Regions from separate parts of the Homo sapiens genome. Here region 2 is linked to region 1. Evidence: fine-mapped expression QTL. Tissue or cell type: whole blood. Region 1 holds a variant in brackets; the other region holds the start of a gene. All regions are shown on one strand. Distances are from middle to middle.

The links. PIP is the estimated chance that this variant, and not a neighbour inherited with it, causes the effect.
Region 2: it holds the start of MYOF, and the variant in region 1 is fine-mapped to the expression of MYOF in whole blood (TOPMed, PIP above 0.99).

The regions. Positions count from the first base shown.
Region 1 is chr10:93,437,149-93,445,254 of GRCh38, reverse strand. The region is part of intron 3 of MYOF (myoferlin); the gene reads left to right. Among named protein-coding and RNA genes, the nearest start is that of MYOF, 41 kb to the left of the region's middle. RefSeq lists enhancers at 7,709-8,003, 7,152-8,106. The variant C/T (reference allele first, on the strand shown) is at 3,440.
Region 2 is chr10:93,478,712-93,486,817 of GRCh38, reverse strand. MYOF (myoferlin) reads left to right here and starts at 4,484. Exons shown (of 54, transcript NM_013451.4): 1 at 4,484-4,711. The coding sequence starts at 4,624.

The DNA.
Region 1 (8,106 bases):
GGTGTGTGTTAGAGTCAGCTCATCTATATCCAGGCCTGTACACTTGACTTTTATGTTATACTGAAAGCCTCTGACTACCTATAGTAAACAAAATGTAGGTAGAATGATCAATTATCTCTGCTGAAATAGAAGTGATTTTTCTTCCTAATTTTGACAAAAAAAAATTTAATTCTCAATATCAGTGTATTGCTACCTTTTATAAGCTCCACCCTAGGTAAAAATTTTAAGCATTTTTATACTGTTGAGTAGGAAGTCACTTATGCCTATATTCTGCAATGGACCAGATATATGAAGAGACTATATCTCATCTCATTTGCTCTTCACAGTGACCTTGAGAAGTAGAGAGTAGACTTGAGCCTCAGAGGGGTGGAGGCTGGGACCCTGATCTGTTGGCATCCTGGCCCTACCCTTGAGTTCCTAAAAGTGCCATCTTCAAGAACCTGTACATGTAGAAATAAAAGATATTGACAAGTTTTCAGATTTGTGTGTCTGTGTGTATGCACACGTGGACACACATGCCCAGGAGAAAAAAGAGGTACTGCGTAGAGTTTTTGCATTTGCTGTTCCCTTTGCGTGGAATGCTCCTTCCCTCAAACTGCAATAGATGTAAAATCTTGTCATTGGGCCTCACCATGTCTGATCATCCAGCCTAGAGCAGCCCCTCCCTGTCACTCTTTATCTTATTACTCTGTTTTATTCTTCCAAAGCCCTTCTTATTAGGGAGCTCATGTGAGTGTAAGAATGGGAAAAGGAGTCTGTGTGAGCAAATACATGCTAGAATTGTGTTTTAGACAAGTACTCAGGGTATGTGCTGGTCCACACACCTGCTATATGTAGCTCAGCATTCACCACCATCTGAAATGTTCTTTTCTATTTACTTATTCATTTGTTCTCTCTCTACTGGATAGTAAACTCCATGTCACTCTTGTTCAATGCCGTAAGACCAGCACTTAGCACAGTGCCTGGCATATAGTAGGCTCTAAATAAACGTTTGTTGGATGAATGAGTGAACAAGTGAGTTTATGATGCTCCTACGTGGATGACATTTACCATTTAAGAAGCACCTTGCAGCTGTCCTGTCAGCTCACTGGTAATGGGCCACCAGTGTGGAATCTGTCCACCTCGGCTCTCTGAAACAGCACCCTAGTTCCAACTTGGGTTTAAGCTGCAAAGGGGTCAGGATACAAAGGTCAGAACACAAGAGAAACAAACCTCTCTCACAAAGCTCATGCCATTTTGTAGAGAGATGTGGAACTCAAGGCTGAGCTCACAGGAAGGCAGGAGAGCATGGTATTTGAAAGTTGGGATTCTGGAGCCAGGCAGAAGCCGATTAGAGACCCAGCTCTACTGATTACTAGTGGGTGACCTGGGCAAGTTACTTACCCTCTCCAGGCCTCAGAATTCTCATCCTTAAATTGACTGTAGTTTGGAATTGACTGTAGTTCCGTTATGCTAAGGGATTAGATTTACCCTCCCACCTGACACAACTAAAACAAAATACATGCAACAGTAGTTTTCAGATGTTGGACTTTGCTGGCACAGAACAGTGATCTCTAAGAGATGGGAGATAAATGAGGTGAGCCCTGAGAGTTCCCAGCTTAATGCCTAGAGAGACTCATTTCCATGCTGCAATGCAAGAAAAGGGATCCTTGTTGTCTCCCAGAGTTGGAGAGGTGCAGGTGGGAGTCTAGAGATGCCAAGGTTAGTCTAAAGATGCCAAGGTTACTAGTGGACCAAGAGGAGAGAAACACAGACACACACACACACACACACACACACACAGAGAGAGAGAGAGAGAGAGAGAAGAAAGAGGAGAGAAGAGAGAGGAGAGACAGAGAGAGCACTTCAGAGACTTGCAGAGAATTCCCCTTGAATCTTCAGCTGAGAACTGAGTGAGGAAACTGCTTGAGGCAGGACTAGAAAGAGTTTATGTTCCCGCCAACCGGGGGAAACACCTTGTAATTCATAGGGAAGGATTTTGCCTCCCTAATGTAGGTAGAAAACAATCAATAGAAACTGACCCAGAAATGGCACACAATCAGTAGACATGGACAGTAAAACAAGTATTATAATTCTTTAAAAAAAATTTTTTGTGAGACAGAGTCTCACTCTGTTGCCCATGCTGGAGTGCAGTGGCACGATCTCAGCTTACTGCAACCTCCGCCTCCGGGTTCAAGTGATTCTCCTACCTCAGCCTCTGGAGTAGCTGGAATTACAGGCACACGCCACCATGCCCAGCTAATTTATGTATTTTTTTTACCAGAGACGGGGTTTCACCATTTTGGCCAGGCTGGTCTCGAACTCCTGGCCTCATGTGACCCGCCCCCCTCGGCCTCCCAAAGTACTGGGATTACAGGCATAAGCCACCGTGCCCCGCTGAGTGTTGGAATTCTATTCTATAGATTCAAGAAGGTGGAGAATTGCTTGAGCATGCTAGTAGGGACATGGAAGATAATTTAAAAAAATTAACTTGGACTGCTAGAGATGACAATTACAATGTCTGAAATAAAGTGACCATAATTATCTGTCTCAGAATTTGCATGTCTAGTATTCTTTCTGCCCTCCAAATACATGTACTTGTGCATGCAAAACCACCATTATATATACTTCCACACCAATGCAGAACAAAGTTAGAAACAGTTTCTGAATATAAATCTCAAGCAAGGCATCTGTTTTGCCGTATTGTAGGAAGGAGATAACAAAAAGGCCTGACAATATACCTAGAAGGAAATGTATTCCAGTTCTTGTGTAAGAGGTGTGGGCATGTGGCCAGCTGTACAATCATGAGATTAGACAGAACTTTGGTTTTGCTTCTTGTTGGTTGGGTGACTCTTGGCAAATTTCTTAATCTTTATAATGGGGACTGTGATACTTCCTCAATAAATAGTAGATATAGGGCAAATTTGATATAATTAAGAAAAAATTACTTCAATTTCCTGATGAACAACAAAATAGCTAATTCTTTTCTTCTAGGTTTACTGTGTGTCAGGGACGATGTTAAAACTGTTTCAGTTACAATCGCATTTAATCCTTATATCAACTATGAGTCCGTCAGACAGTCTGATCTTCAACTCACAGATGAGAAAAATGTGGCTGAAAGAGGTTCATTAAATTGTAAAAGGTCACTCAGCTCTTTAAGTGGAAGCATGTGGATTTTACATAGGTATGTTAAAATCCTCTTACACAGAGCCCAGACTTTCCAAGGTTTATTCTGTGTGTGTGTGTGTGTGTGTGTGTGTGTGTGTGTGTGTGTGTGTTCAGGTTGAGGGCCAGGGTGCTAAAACTTGAAAGTGAGAGGTTGTTCGGGGGAATATAGAATTAAAGGAAAAGGATATAGAATTAAATAAAAAAAGGAAAAGACCTAGCTTACGTTGTGAAATGTACTAACTCTCGGCCGGGCACGGTGACTCACGCCTGTAATTCTAGCACTTTGGGAGGC[C/T]GAGGCAGGTGGATCACGAGGTCAGGAGTTCGAGACCAGCCTGGCCAACATGGGCAAACCCCCGTCTCTACTAAAAATACAAATATTAGCTGCGTGTGGTGGCAAGCGCCTGTAATCCCAGCTACTCGGGAGGCTGAGGTAGGAGAATCGCTTGAATGCAGAAGGCAGAGGTTGCAGTGAGCCGAGACCGTGCCATTGCACTCCGGCCTGGGTGACAGAGTGAGACTCTGTCTCAAAAAAAAAAAAAAAAAAAAGATACAAAAATTAGCCAGGCATGGTGGCGGGCACCTGTAATCCCAGCTACTCCAGAGACTGAGGCAGGAGAATCGCTTGAATTCAAGAGGTGGAGCTTGCAATGAGCTGAGATTGCACCACTGCACTCCAGCCTGGGCAACGGCGTGAGACTCCGTCTCCAAAAAAAAAAAGAAATGTACTAACTCCCTAGCTTGTTTTAAATTAGAAAAAACAAAAGACTGCGTTTGGAATAAAATTAATTTGGTAGGGCAAAGTGTGGTATTGCTTATAAGACGTTTTTCATTCCCTAGTATATGAAATACCTTGTCTTTAAGCTTTTATTACTTTTATTTCTCCTAGTTATAAAGCTCATTTCTGACCTTGCCCCATGTAAATGTGACAGTGGGAGAAGGTGGTCTTTCTTCTCCTGGGGTTGGTTGGTGAGGAAGGATAGGATAGCCCATGGATTGAAACAGGTTCTTCTCACTGGAGTAGCTTCTCAGGCTGTACAAAAATCTAAACTAGAAGCAGATGTTACTGTGGGGCAGAACTCTCAGTTCTGATTTCTTTTTAGTTCTGTATTAGAGCAATGACACTGAAATGATCTGAGCTGGTTTGGGCTGGCTGTCTCTATACGGGGAGAGGCTGAACTGCACTTTTTGGAAGGCAGATTAAGTAGCTGCTGCAATCCTGTTGGTATCTGTTAAGATCTTGTGATTAAATAAGATTGGGCCACAGCCCTGGAGAAAGATACCCAGAGAGGCTGAAAGAGAAAGGCATCTCATAAAGGCAAGAGCTGTAATTATCTTCTGATGGCTCTTTGGCGGGTGATCTCTTAGGACAGGAAGATTTACAACCTGTAAATAATTTGCAAGGTCATTGGACTATCTTCAATGATGTATCAGCTAATTTATTCATGCCACAAATATTTACTAATGCCTACTATGTGTCAGACACAGCTCTAGACACTGGGGGTACTCCATACCTTTTATGGAGCTAACATCTGAGTAGAGGGAACAGATAAATACACATATGACATAACAGATGGTGATAAGTGATACGAAGAAAATAAAGGAAGGTAAAGGAGAGAAAACAGCAGGGTGAGGTCTGAGTGGGTGCTGGTTTAGATAGGGTTGTTGTATAAGGGTTTGTTTTGGGGGTTTTTTTTTTCGAGACGGAGTCTTGCTCTGTCGACAGGCTGGAGTGCAGTGGCACAATCCCGGCTCACTGCAACCTCTGCCTCCCGGGTTCAAGTGATTCTTCTGCCCCAGCCTCCCGAGTAGCTAGGACTACAGGCGCCCGCCACCACGCCCGACTAATTTTTTTATTTTTAGTAGAAATGGGGTTTCACCATATTGGCCAGGATGGTCTTGATCTCTTGACCTCGTGATCCACCTGCCTCGGCCTCACAAAGTGCTGGGATTACAGGCATGAGCCACTGCACCCAGCCTGGGGAATCTTTTATAATGGGTTATGAAGTTTACAGACTTCATTCAGATTCCACTAAATTGGATTTTATGAGAATTCAGCTGCAGCTGACATTTACCTCTGGTCTAACTCTGAAAAGAAAAATTGTTTCCCAAAAGGATTTGTGGTATATGTAGTATTAAGGGTGGGGAAGGGCTATTTAATGTAGGTAAGATAAAGAACTGGTTTTAAGAACTTTACATAGTGATTACATAGAAATGGATGTGGGTAGTTACAAAGGGTTCTTATCTATTCATTCATGCCCACCTGCCCAGCCCCCTGCTGATTCAGACCAGCTTTCACTGCCAAGTACTAGCCAGGAGCCCTGTCTTCATATGCTTTTTATACATCTCTTTTTCTAGCATAGTGTCTGAAATAATAATACAAGGTGACTGTTAAGCACTTGCCATATCATCCTTTTAATCCCTGCAACAATACCATTAAGTAGGAGCTGTCATTATCCCCATTTTATAGATGAGGAAACTGAAGCTCGGAGAAGTTAACCTGTACGCAGCCTGAGTCTGAATTAGTCAGGCCTGCCTGCCTCCACGTTCCTAGTCATCAGGCAAAGCTGTCCCTCCTTATCTTACAAGGTTCAAGTTCATGAAAGAGTGAATAAATGGATGGATGAAAAAACTACTACTTTGATTCTAACGGTTGAGGGAATTAACTGGAGACAGAGCATCGGAACTCCACTGAACCATCAGAGCAGGCAGGCAGGCAGGCAGGCACAGAATTGGTCAGGTGAAAATAACAAAATAGCAGGTGACCATTTCTTCAAGAAATAATATTCAGCATCTCCTCCATGCCAGAGGAGTTAGCCTGCTCCTCGCAGCCACAGACTCTGGCCTCAATGCCTCACTGACCCGGAGGGCTTTGGTGAGGAGACCTGGGCTTCCACTCAGCCCTTTGCAGGTGTTACCTGCAAAGGTAACAGTGATACCATAGTGGCCAGAGTTGCAGAGGTGGGAGGGGCTGGGAAAAAGAGCACAGTAGATGCTGGCCACGAAAATCGTGCAAATCCTGCCACAGCCTTCAGGCTATGTCAGTGATTCCAAAACCAGGGCGTGGAGTGAGCTAAAAGTAGAGGCGAGACTTGTGCCAGCCAGGTTTGGGAATCACGGTTGAGGATCAGTGTTTCTACCTTTTAAAAAGCCACACCCCCTTTCGATGAGCAGGAAAAGAGCCGCAAGGTTCTCTGGCAGTCCTGGCCTGGAGTCAGGAGCGGAAGTTCCTGGGGGGAGCGCAGGTCACTAGGCCTTCCTAGGAGGTTTTCATGGAGTTTGCCTGCTACAGTTTGTTCTATTAAATAATTGGACTTCGATGCGTGGTTCTCAAACGTGAGCCTGGATTCCCATGCTGAATGTTTTCAAAACCACTCAAGCCCCCCTCTCCCCAGATCCCGCGTTGCCTTCTGCCTTCCCTATCCCTAGCCCTCTACCTCCTCCACTTTACTCCCACAGCCATTGGGAGTCACTGTCTAGACCATTGTTTCTCGGACTTCCTGGGTATTAAGAATTACCGAAAGGAAAAAGTCGGACTCAGGGATCTGGGAATCTGCAGACGCCCTGGTGAGGGACGTCTGGGGAAGCACATTCTGAGAAATGTTTTGGGAGACGATGCGGAGGCCGAGTGAGGGTGGGCGGGCAAGTGCAAGTGGAGGGGTGAACCGAGGCGCAGCCCTTTGCGGGGATTTTACCTTAGCAATAGTTTCCTGTGATACGAGCTGCTGCCATGGGCGTGTTGAGAAAGAATTATTCAGTGACACCTGGTACAGTATGGGCAGGAAGGCTTCATTCAGGACTGAGTTAGCTCAAGTGACCCCTGCAACGGAGACTCGTGGGAAGGAAGAGAGATGGGGTGCCACTCAGATACAGCATGGGCAAGTAGGAATTGATAGCCAAGGAGGAGTGTGGGGGGTCAGTGGATGGAAAATTCCTAAGAGGAAATGTCACAGTCAGGGGGATTCTGGCTAACCCAACCTAACAGGATTCTTGCTGAGGACATCACGTGGGGGATGGCAGAGAATGAGAAACCCGATCAGATATGGAGGGTGATCAGATCTCACGGATGGGGGTTGTTTGCTAAACTGACCGAGTAGGATTCTCTGCTAACACTGGATTTCATAAGGAAGCACAGGCTTAGGAGGAGGCTCAGGAGCTCCACTCAAGTTTGGCCAAGCAAAGACTCTTTGTCAGCTGACACGGCGTCTCCTACCAGTCTAGTTCACAGGGAGCATCCTTGGCTCTCCTGCCTTTTGGCGGGGGATCAGGGCAGGAGCTTGACAGATACTGGCCCAGGAGAGGGAGAAGTGCTGGGGAGGGAGATGGGGTCCAGCCTTGGAACCCCAGGGCCATAGGCCTGCCAAAATGACAAGGCACGGCCAACTGAGAGCCCCTGCTTCGAGGGTGGGAAGCTCACCATCTTTTTAGGTTTCCTACAGGGGACCTAGGAGCAGCCTGGAATCGTGTTTGTCCCCAGTCAGGTTGGGATTGCTGTTCCTGCTTAGAGGTCGGGAAGTTGAGACCGTGCTGCGATCTCTAGAGGCAGAAACAGTGCAACATGTGATTTATTTCTCAGCCTCCAACACATTTTTTCCTTCCTTCATGAAGGAATTTCCAAGTTACTCCTCCTCCAGAAATCATGTGGGCTGTGTCTCTGCTGCATAGAGGAACAACTTCGTATACGTGAGCTCCCCTGAGTAAGAGTCAGCCGGCAAAGCCCTTACTCACTCCAGAGGCATGCGGCCCTTCACATTTGCGCCGTGCTAAAGGGGAGAACATTTTCCATTTCTCTTTTGTAAACAAACTATACTCTGTCTATTTTAAGAAGAAGAAGAAAGAAGAAAAAAAAAACAGTTTAAGCGGCTCTTAACCAATACTTGCAAGACTAAGTTGACTGGTTTACAATTAAACTCTTTCATTCCCCCAATCATAACATCTCATTTTCAAGTAGTTGCTCCCATT
Region 2 (8,106 bases), 42 kb before region 1:
TCCAGCCAGAAGGACATAACAAGACTCCATCTCAAAAAAAAAAAAAAAAAAACCAAAAAAAAAAACCTCAAAGTTTTAGCAACCTAGGAATAAAGAGAACTCCTTTAATCTTAAAAGGGCTAATTATGAGAAACCTACAGCAAACATCATACTTTATGGTGAAGTATGGAAATCTTTCCCTTTGAAATACAGAAAAAGATAAGGATGTCTGTTATTACCACCCCTAGTCAATATTATAATGAAAGGTCTAATCAACATAGAAATAAATGGGAAAATAAAGTAAGCACAAAGATTGAAAAGGAAGAAACACCCCAGGCGTTATTTGCAGATTCTATAATTGTAATGGTAGAAAATCCATGAGAATTTACTGCTGATTACACTCTCACCAGCGGTGTATGAGACTTCCCGTTGTTCCACATTCTTGTCAAGCTTGGCAATGTTAGATTTTTACATATTTTCCCATCTGGTGAGTATATAATAATAACTCATTGGAGTTTTAATTTGCACTTTTCTAATTACCAATGAGGTTGAGTACCTTTTCATATTTACATTTCCTAATTTATGAAGTGCCTATTCAAATCTTTTACCTATTTTTCCATTGAGTTCTATGTGTTTGTCTTACTAATTTGCTGGAGCTGTTTATGTACTCTGAATACTAGTCCTTTGTAGGTTGTGATTTTAATATAATTGAATTTATCAATATTTCCTTTATGATTTGTACATTTTTTCATATTAAGAAATCCTTTCCTATCCTGGGGTCATATAGATATTCTTCTATGGCTTTTTTTGTTGTTTGATTTTTTTCTTTACTTATTTGTTTTAGAGAGGAGGTCTTGCCATGTTGTCTAGGCTGGATTTCTATTTCTGGCCTCAAGTGATCCTCTTGCCTCAGCTTCCCAAGTAGCTGGGACTACAGGTGTGAGCTGCTGCCACCACCTGGTTAGATTTTTTTTTTTTTTTTTTTAGAGACAGGGTCTCACTCTGTTACCCAGGTTGGAGTATAGTGGCACAATCATGGCTCACTGCCACCAGGACTTCCCAGGCTCAAGTGGTTGTCCCACCTCAGCCTTTCAAGTAGCTGGGACCACAGGTGCATGCCACCACACTCGATTAATTTAAAAAATTTTTTTTAGAGGCAGGGTCTCACTATGTTGCCCAGGCTGGTCTCAGACTCACCTCAGCCTCCCCAAAGTGTTGAGATTACAGGTATGAACCACTGTGTCTGGGCTGAAACATGTTTTATCTTGCTTATTTAGATTTATACTCCACCTGTAATTGATTATGTATTATGTAAGGTTGGAAGTCATTTGTCTTTTTCTCCCACATGAATAGGTAAAAGGCAAATTAAAACTCCAGTGAGATGCTATTATATGCTCACCAGAAGGGCAAATGTAAAAAATCTAACATTGGTTAAGTATGACAAAAATTTAGAACAACAGGAAGTCTCATACACTGCTGGCAAGAGTACCATTGTGGAATATAATTTGGAATTACCTTGTAAAGGTGAAGAAATGCATACATTCTCTGGCCCAGCAAGCAATTCCACCCATAGATTAGACTCTAAATAGACTCATGCACATTTGTGCCAGAACAGTCTTGGACTGTTCAGAACAGCACTGTTTGTAATAGCCCCATTCCCTGAACTGTCCAAATGTCTGGCAGTAGTAGAATGAATTAATCAAATCTGGAGGCCAGGCGCAGTGGCTCATGCCTGTAATCCCAGCACTTTGGGAGGCTGAGGCAGGCGGATCACGAGGTAAAGAGTTCGAGAACATCCTGGCCAACATGGTGACACCCCATCTCTACTAAAGATACAAAAATTAGCCGGGCGTGGTGGTGTGCACCTGTAATCCCAGCTACTCAGGAGGCTGAGGCAGGAGAATTGCTTGAACCCGGGAGGCAGAGGTTGCAGTGAAACGAGATCGCACCACTGCACTCCAGCCTGGGCTACAGAGCAAGACTCTGTCTCAAAATAAATAAATAAATAAAATGTCAGAAACTCATACAATGAAATGCCATATAGCAACAAGAGTGAAGGAAGTAGAGCTACATGAATGAATTTCACAATATAATACTGAGAAAAAAGAAGTCAAACACGAAAGAATCCATTCTGTATGAGTCCATTTCTATAAAGTCATAATACAGCAAAGAATTCACAAAGTATGAACACATGTATGTGTGTACCTATATATATGAATATATGTGTTGTATGTAAAGTTCATAACATACAAAAGAATTTATATCACCAAACAAAGGTCATGAGCAAGCAAACCTAAACTGTTTTGTTGTTGTTGTTTTCGGTAAAAACTACAAAGAAAAGCAAGGAAATCATTACCATAAAAATCAGGAGAGTGGGCCAGGCATGGTGGCTCATGCCTGTAATCCCAGCACTTTGGGAGGCCGAGGTGGATGGATCACCTGAGGTCAGGAGTTTGAGACCAGCCTGGCCAACACGGTGAAACCCTGTCTCTACTAAAAATACAAAATTAGCCGGGTGTGGTAGTGCACGCCTGTAATCCCAGCTACCTGGGAGGCTGAGGCAGGAGAATTGCTTGAACCCGGGAGGTGGAGGTGGCAGTGAGCCGATCACCCCACTTCAATCCAGCCTGGGCAACAAGAGTGAAACTCCATCTAAAAAAAGAAAAAAAAATCAGGAGAGTGGTTACCTCTGGGAGAAGGAGGTGGATATGATATATGGGGTATTCCAGGGGCTTCTGGAGGACTGGCAATGTTCTGTCTTGACCTGGATGCTTGTTAAACTGTCACGTTTATGTAGTATGCATTTTTCTGTAAATATATTTCACAGTAAAAATGGCAAATAGAAAGCAGCCAGATAAAATAAAAGTAATAATCTCTATATTCCACTAAAACTGCCAACATGTCCACTAAATACAATAATGAACACAGCACTGGGTAATTGGTTCTTTGCTTTAAGCCTTGGAGAAACTCGTGGAGACAGAAGAATTCTTGTAGGTTAAGTCATGCTTATTCAATGTACTTGAAATGTTTATTTACAGGTGGGTCTGCTTGATGTGTGTTCTAAAGCAAAAAGAAGCCCAATGTTTCTTCATCCCAAGTTTTAGCCTTTTCTTCTGAAATATAACGAGATCCTGATTTAAAGTCAGCCTGCACTAACAGAAACGCTGTGAGACCACAAATAAGCATGAACTTCTTACATGTGCAAATTACTGTGTGCTTTGTGCCAGCTCCTATGCTATGACCTTTATCTTATAACAGCCTTTATCCCCAGTTCATAGATGAGGAAACTGAGGAAGAGAGGGGTTAAGAAACTTGCTCGCCAGCACGGTGGCTCAAGCCAGTAAAGCTCAAGCCAGTAAAGCTCAAGCCACGGAGGCCGAGGCGGGCGGATCACAAGGTCAAGAGATCGAGACCATCCTTGCCAGCATGGTGAAACCCCGTCTCTACTAAAAATACAAAAAAAAAAAAAATTAGCTGCGTGTGGTGGCGCACGCCTGTAGTCCCAGCTACTCGGGAGACTGAGGCAGGAGAATCGCTTGAACCCGGGAGGCAGAGGTTGCAGTGAGCCAAGATCGCTACACTGCACTCCAGCCTGGTGACAGAGCGAGACTCCGTCAAAAAAAAAAAAGAAAAGAAAAGAAAAGAAAAGAAACTTGCTAAGATGACGTAGCTCAGGGTGGTGAGGCAGAGTCTCACACTCAGATCTGGCTGACTAACCCCAGGCCGCCTCTTGTGATCTCAGCCAAGCTGCACTGTCTTCATGCACCCTCTGGGACAGAAAGACACCATGGGCAGCTGTAGGTCCAGAAACAGTGGGGAGTCACTTCTCCATTTTCACTGAAGGCAATTGGCAGCATTTGAAGAGCCGGGAAAACTTAGGCGCCCAGCTCTCACCTCTGAAGGGGTTTTGAAGAAATTCTATGTTCAGTCCTTTATATATATATATATATATATATATATATATATATATATATATATATATATATATATATAATTATTTATACATATATGTAATTATTTATATATCCCATGCCTGGATCGCGTTTACTTGAAATAAACGCTGTCATTCGTTTGCCGTCCAGTAAGAGGCACCCTTTAGCTGCTTTAAAAAAGCTGAACATAGGGTTACTGAGTGGGTGTGTTCAATGGCGTGAGAAGTAACAGCGAAAAGTCAAAAGCAAATAATGACTAAAGTTTTAAAACTCCTTGAAACTCAGAAAAGAATGAAAGCAGTGACGGAAAAATCAATTAATTCAGTTTCACGAACCATTGCTAAAAGGCAGCAACATTTTAGTGGTTTCCTGACCTACCCGTATTTCTTAGCTCCAAATTCATGTTGGTTTCATTTGTCGCACGGAATTATTTTTAGTTTAGGGTTTGTCCTTTTCACTTCCACATTTCCCGAATTCATAAGTCTGTGCCTGCGGCACTGCGTAGACGCGGGGAGTTCGGTATCAGTTTACACGTTGCCTTCAGTAAAATCCGCCAGAGGTCCACCCATTTTGCCTTTTCCCCTTCCTTGCCCTGGGAGAAATCCTCCCTTCACTGGGAGAGAACTTCTCTCCCAGGGCGGTGCGACCCGGAGCTCCAGCGCCCTAGTCTCCACTTCGTTTGCTGAAACTTGCTTTCTACCAGCTAAGAACCATGCTGCGAGTGATTGTGGAATCTGCCAGCAATATCCCTAAAACGAAATTTGGCAAGCCGGATCCTATTGTTTCTGTCATTTTTAAGGGTAAGAAAAAGTTTTCTTCTTTTTCTGAAGTCCTGTTTTGGAATGTTAGTTTCTTGAGTCACCTTCTTGAAAAGTCTGCATTTAGACAGCTGATGAAGCCAAGTCTCTCCAGCAGCGTTTGTTACCTGCGCAGGACAGGGGAGAGGACCCGTTTCTGGGGAAGGCATTTAATTTTCTCCAGGGCTTGAGACTCATGGAATGACCTGATGTTTTAGCTCTAAGAGTGTGATTTCTGTAAGCTCTTGGCAGAAAACGTATTTGCGAATCACTAAATTTCAGGTATCAACAAACATCTGTATTGGTTCAAAGTAAGTTTCAGTAGTCTTAGATGCATTTTTTCTCTGCCTGTGAGAAATGGGTAAAGGAGGAAGAAGAGCAATTAAATTGTTGGAGACACCATTACTCCTTGAACCAGCCTGACGCTGCTTTGATTGTCACTGGGTTTCTGGGAGGTGGGATGGGTGAAGTTCATAGTTTTATTGAGTTTTCCTGCCCTTTTGTGCCTTTGTAATTGTTTTTATATCTAAACTGTTGGGGAGCTTTTTTTGTACATTCTGTAGCTTTTAAATTGCTCATTGAGGAAAGAACTCTGGACAGCTAGTTTGCAATTTGGGGATCTAGTTCTATCTTGCCTGCTGAATGACCTTGGGCAAGTTACTTCATTTCTCTGGGATCTCAATTTTCTTTTCTGCAAAACAGGCGAGAAGGGTTTAGACAAGATCATCTCTAAAAACCTCATGGTTGGCTGAGCACAGTGGCTCCTCAACCCTGAGCCAACTTTGGGAGGCCAAGGCAGGAGGATTGCTTGAGCCCAGGAGTTTGAGGCTACAGTGAGCCGTGATCACGCCACTGCACTCCAGCCTGGGTGTAAAAATAAATAAAAATAAAAGGCTCATGGTAATTTTAAAAGGCTATTTTTCTATGACACTTGATTGCCATTGCAGGGGAGGGGACAGGAATGCTTGGTGTCATGGTACAATTTGATGTAAGTGACTTAGTTTTGGCTAAAGTGGGGTTTCTAAATCTCAGTGTGGAGGCTTTATCTATTTTGTTTGTCATTGGTAAGACTGCCAACTCACTTCTTGGCAAGAGGGATGGGAAAGAGAGGGAAAGGCAGAGAGAGTGGGAGCATGGATAGACATGTGTTTCCTGACCATGCCTTGCTACATTTCTCGTTTCTTCCAGGAGCCTGACTGCTACTCCCTGTCAGTTCCTGAGGCATCTATACCTTTCGCCTTTCTGTTTCCCGTTTTTCCCCTTTATTTCTCTTCTTAAACCTCTCTCTCTGAGGATGAGCAAGAAAATGAAAGAAATGAAACTCAAAGCTGGCTGGCTGGGTGTGGTGACTTCTGCCTGTAATCCCAGAACTTTGGGAGGCTGAGGTGGGTGGATCACATGAGGGCAGGAGTTCGAGACCAGCCAGGCCAACATGGCAAAACCCCATCTCTACTAAAAATACAAAAATTAGCCGGGCATGGTGGCACATGCCTATAATCCCAGCTACTCGGGAGGCTGAGGCAGGAGGATTGCTTCAACCCAGGAGGAGGAGGTTGCAGTGAGCCGAGATCATGCTACTGCACTCCAACCTGGGCAACAGAGTGAGACTCCGTCTCAAAAAAAAAAAAAAAAAAAAAAAAAAGCTGGCAAATTGTTGGTTGGTTAAAAAAAAAATCTAAAGGGCAAAAATTGGATTTAAAAAAAATTTAAAAAAATTTTTTTGAATAAGACTGGGTCTTGCTATGTTGCCCAGGCTGGTTATAATTCCCTTGCTCAAACTTTCTTCCCATCTCAGCTTCCCAAAGTGTTGGGATTACAGGCGTAAACTACCACGCCCAGCTTAAAATTGGGCTCTTAAAGGACAATGAGGTTTGAAAATCTGGCTAGTGAATATCATGGACTCACGTTATGTCAGAGTTTATTTACATGTGTTAGGTTTTATTAATTTTTTGTTTTCTTGAAGCAGTTACATAATAGAGACATAATATGAAGATTTTACATCCTTCATCATTGACATATAAAGACATTAAAATATATTTGGATCAGTCCGATCATGTAATTATTTAAGTATTATAGATTATAGAGGAATTGGAGTTAATACTATATTGAAATCTGACTTGTTATTTGTCTGGAGTTTGTATGCATTGATGAAACATTTTAAATGATGAAAAATATATCTAAGTCAATGAATGCAAACAATCAATTGAAAGTGGAAAACTTCAGTTAAGTTGGCAAATATAGTCTATACAAACAATTACACATTTAACTTTAGTCTCTTTTCTGGCCTCCTTTTTTCATACAAATCGAGTGGTAAAGTCATTCATTCATTTAGCTAACAAGCAACCTGACAGAGGAAAGGGCACTCAACTCAGAGTAGGAACATCTGCATTCCAGCTGACATTAACTCAATATCTGATTTAACCACCTGGGTCTCCAATTTCTCAGCTGTGGCATGATGGGAACTGGTCTTTAGATGCCTTCCGTCTTTTAGATTCTAATTTTCTAGTTCCAGGTATTGAGTTAGCTGCTCTCAGCAAGATGTGAAATGCATTGCCTTAGGTGCTGGAGGGGATATAGCAACAAACACAGCACTCTTCTTGCTTTCAGTCTATGTCGGTGGTTTAAAATCCTGGTGATGGCAAACCCTTTACAGGTGTGTTCCCAATTTTGAGCACTGCGTAAAATTAAGTAACATTAAGTTCTGACTGAACTGAGGATACTTATAGCAAAATACTGTCCATCAGAGGGAACATGGAACAAAGGCAGACACACTTCATAGTGTGGAGTGGGGCAGGGTATGGTAAACTGGAAAAAGCCCTACCATGCCTGTAGTCCCAGCTACTCAGGAGGCTGAGGCAGGAGAATCACTTGAGCCTGGGAGGCGGAGGTTCCAGTGAGCAGAGATCGCACCACTGCACTCCAGCCTGGGAGATAGAACGAGACTCCATCTCAAAAAAAAAAAAAGGAAAAAGCCATACCAGAAGATCAAGGCGGCATCAAAGAAAGTCCCTGTGTTAACAGAAATATGTAAACATTTTGCCTCTTGGGTAAATAAACAAAGTCAGGGCAGTAAGCAGCTCTTCTCAAACTATAAGACGGTGAAGAATGGCCAGGGGAAGTGATTGTTAATGGTGAAGCTCGCATAGACACTGTGAGGCCCTATTAGGCTATAGCTACACTGTACTTGGGATTGTGCTGTACTGACAACCAACTGGTTTACAGTTGACCTCAGTTTTTCGTGTTCAAACCCTTTCTTTCTTTCTTTCTTTTTTTTTTTTTTTTTTGAGACTGTTTCACCCTGCCATCCAGGAGGGAAGAGTGCAGTCAGTGGTGTGATCATGGTCTCGAACTCCTGGGCTCAAGCGATCCTCCCACCTCAGCCTCCTGAGTAGCTGAAC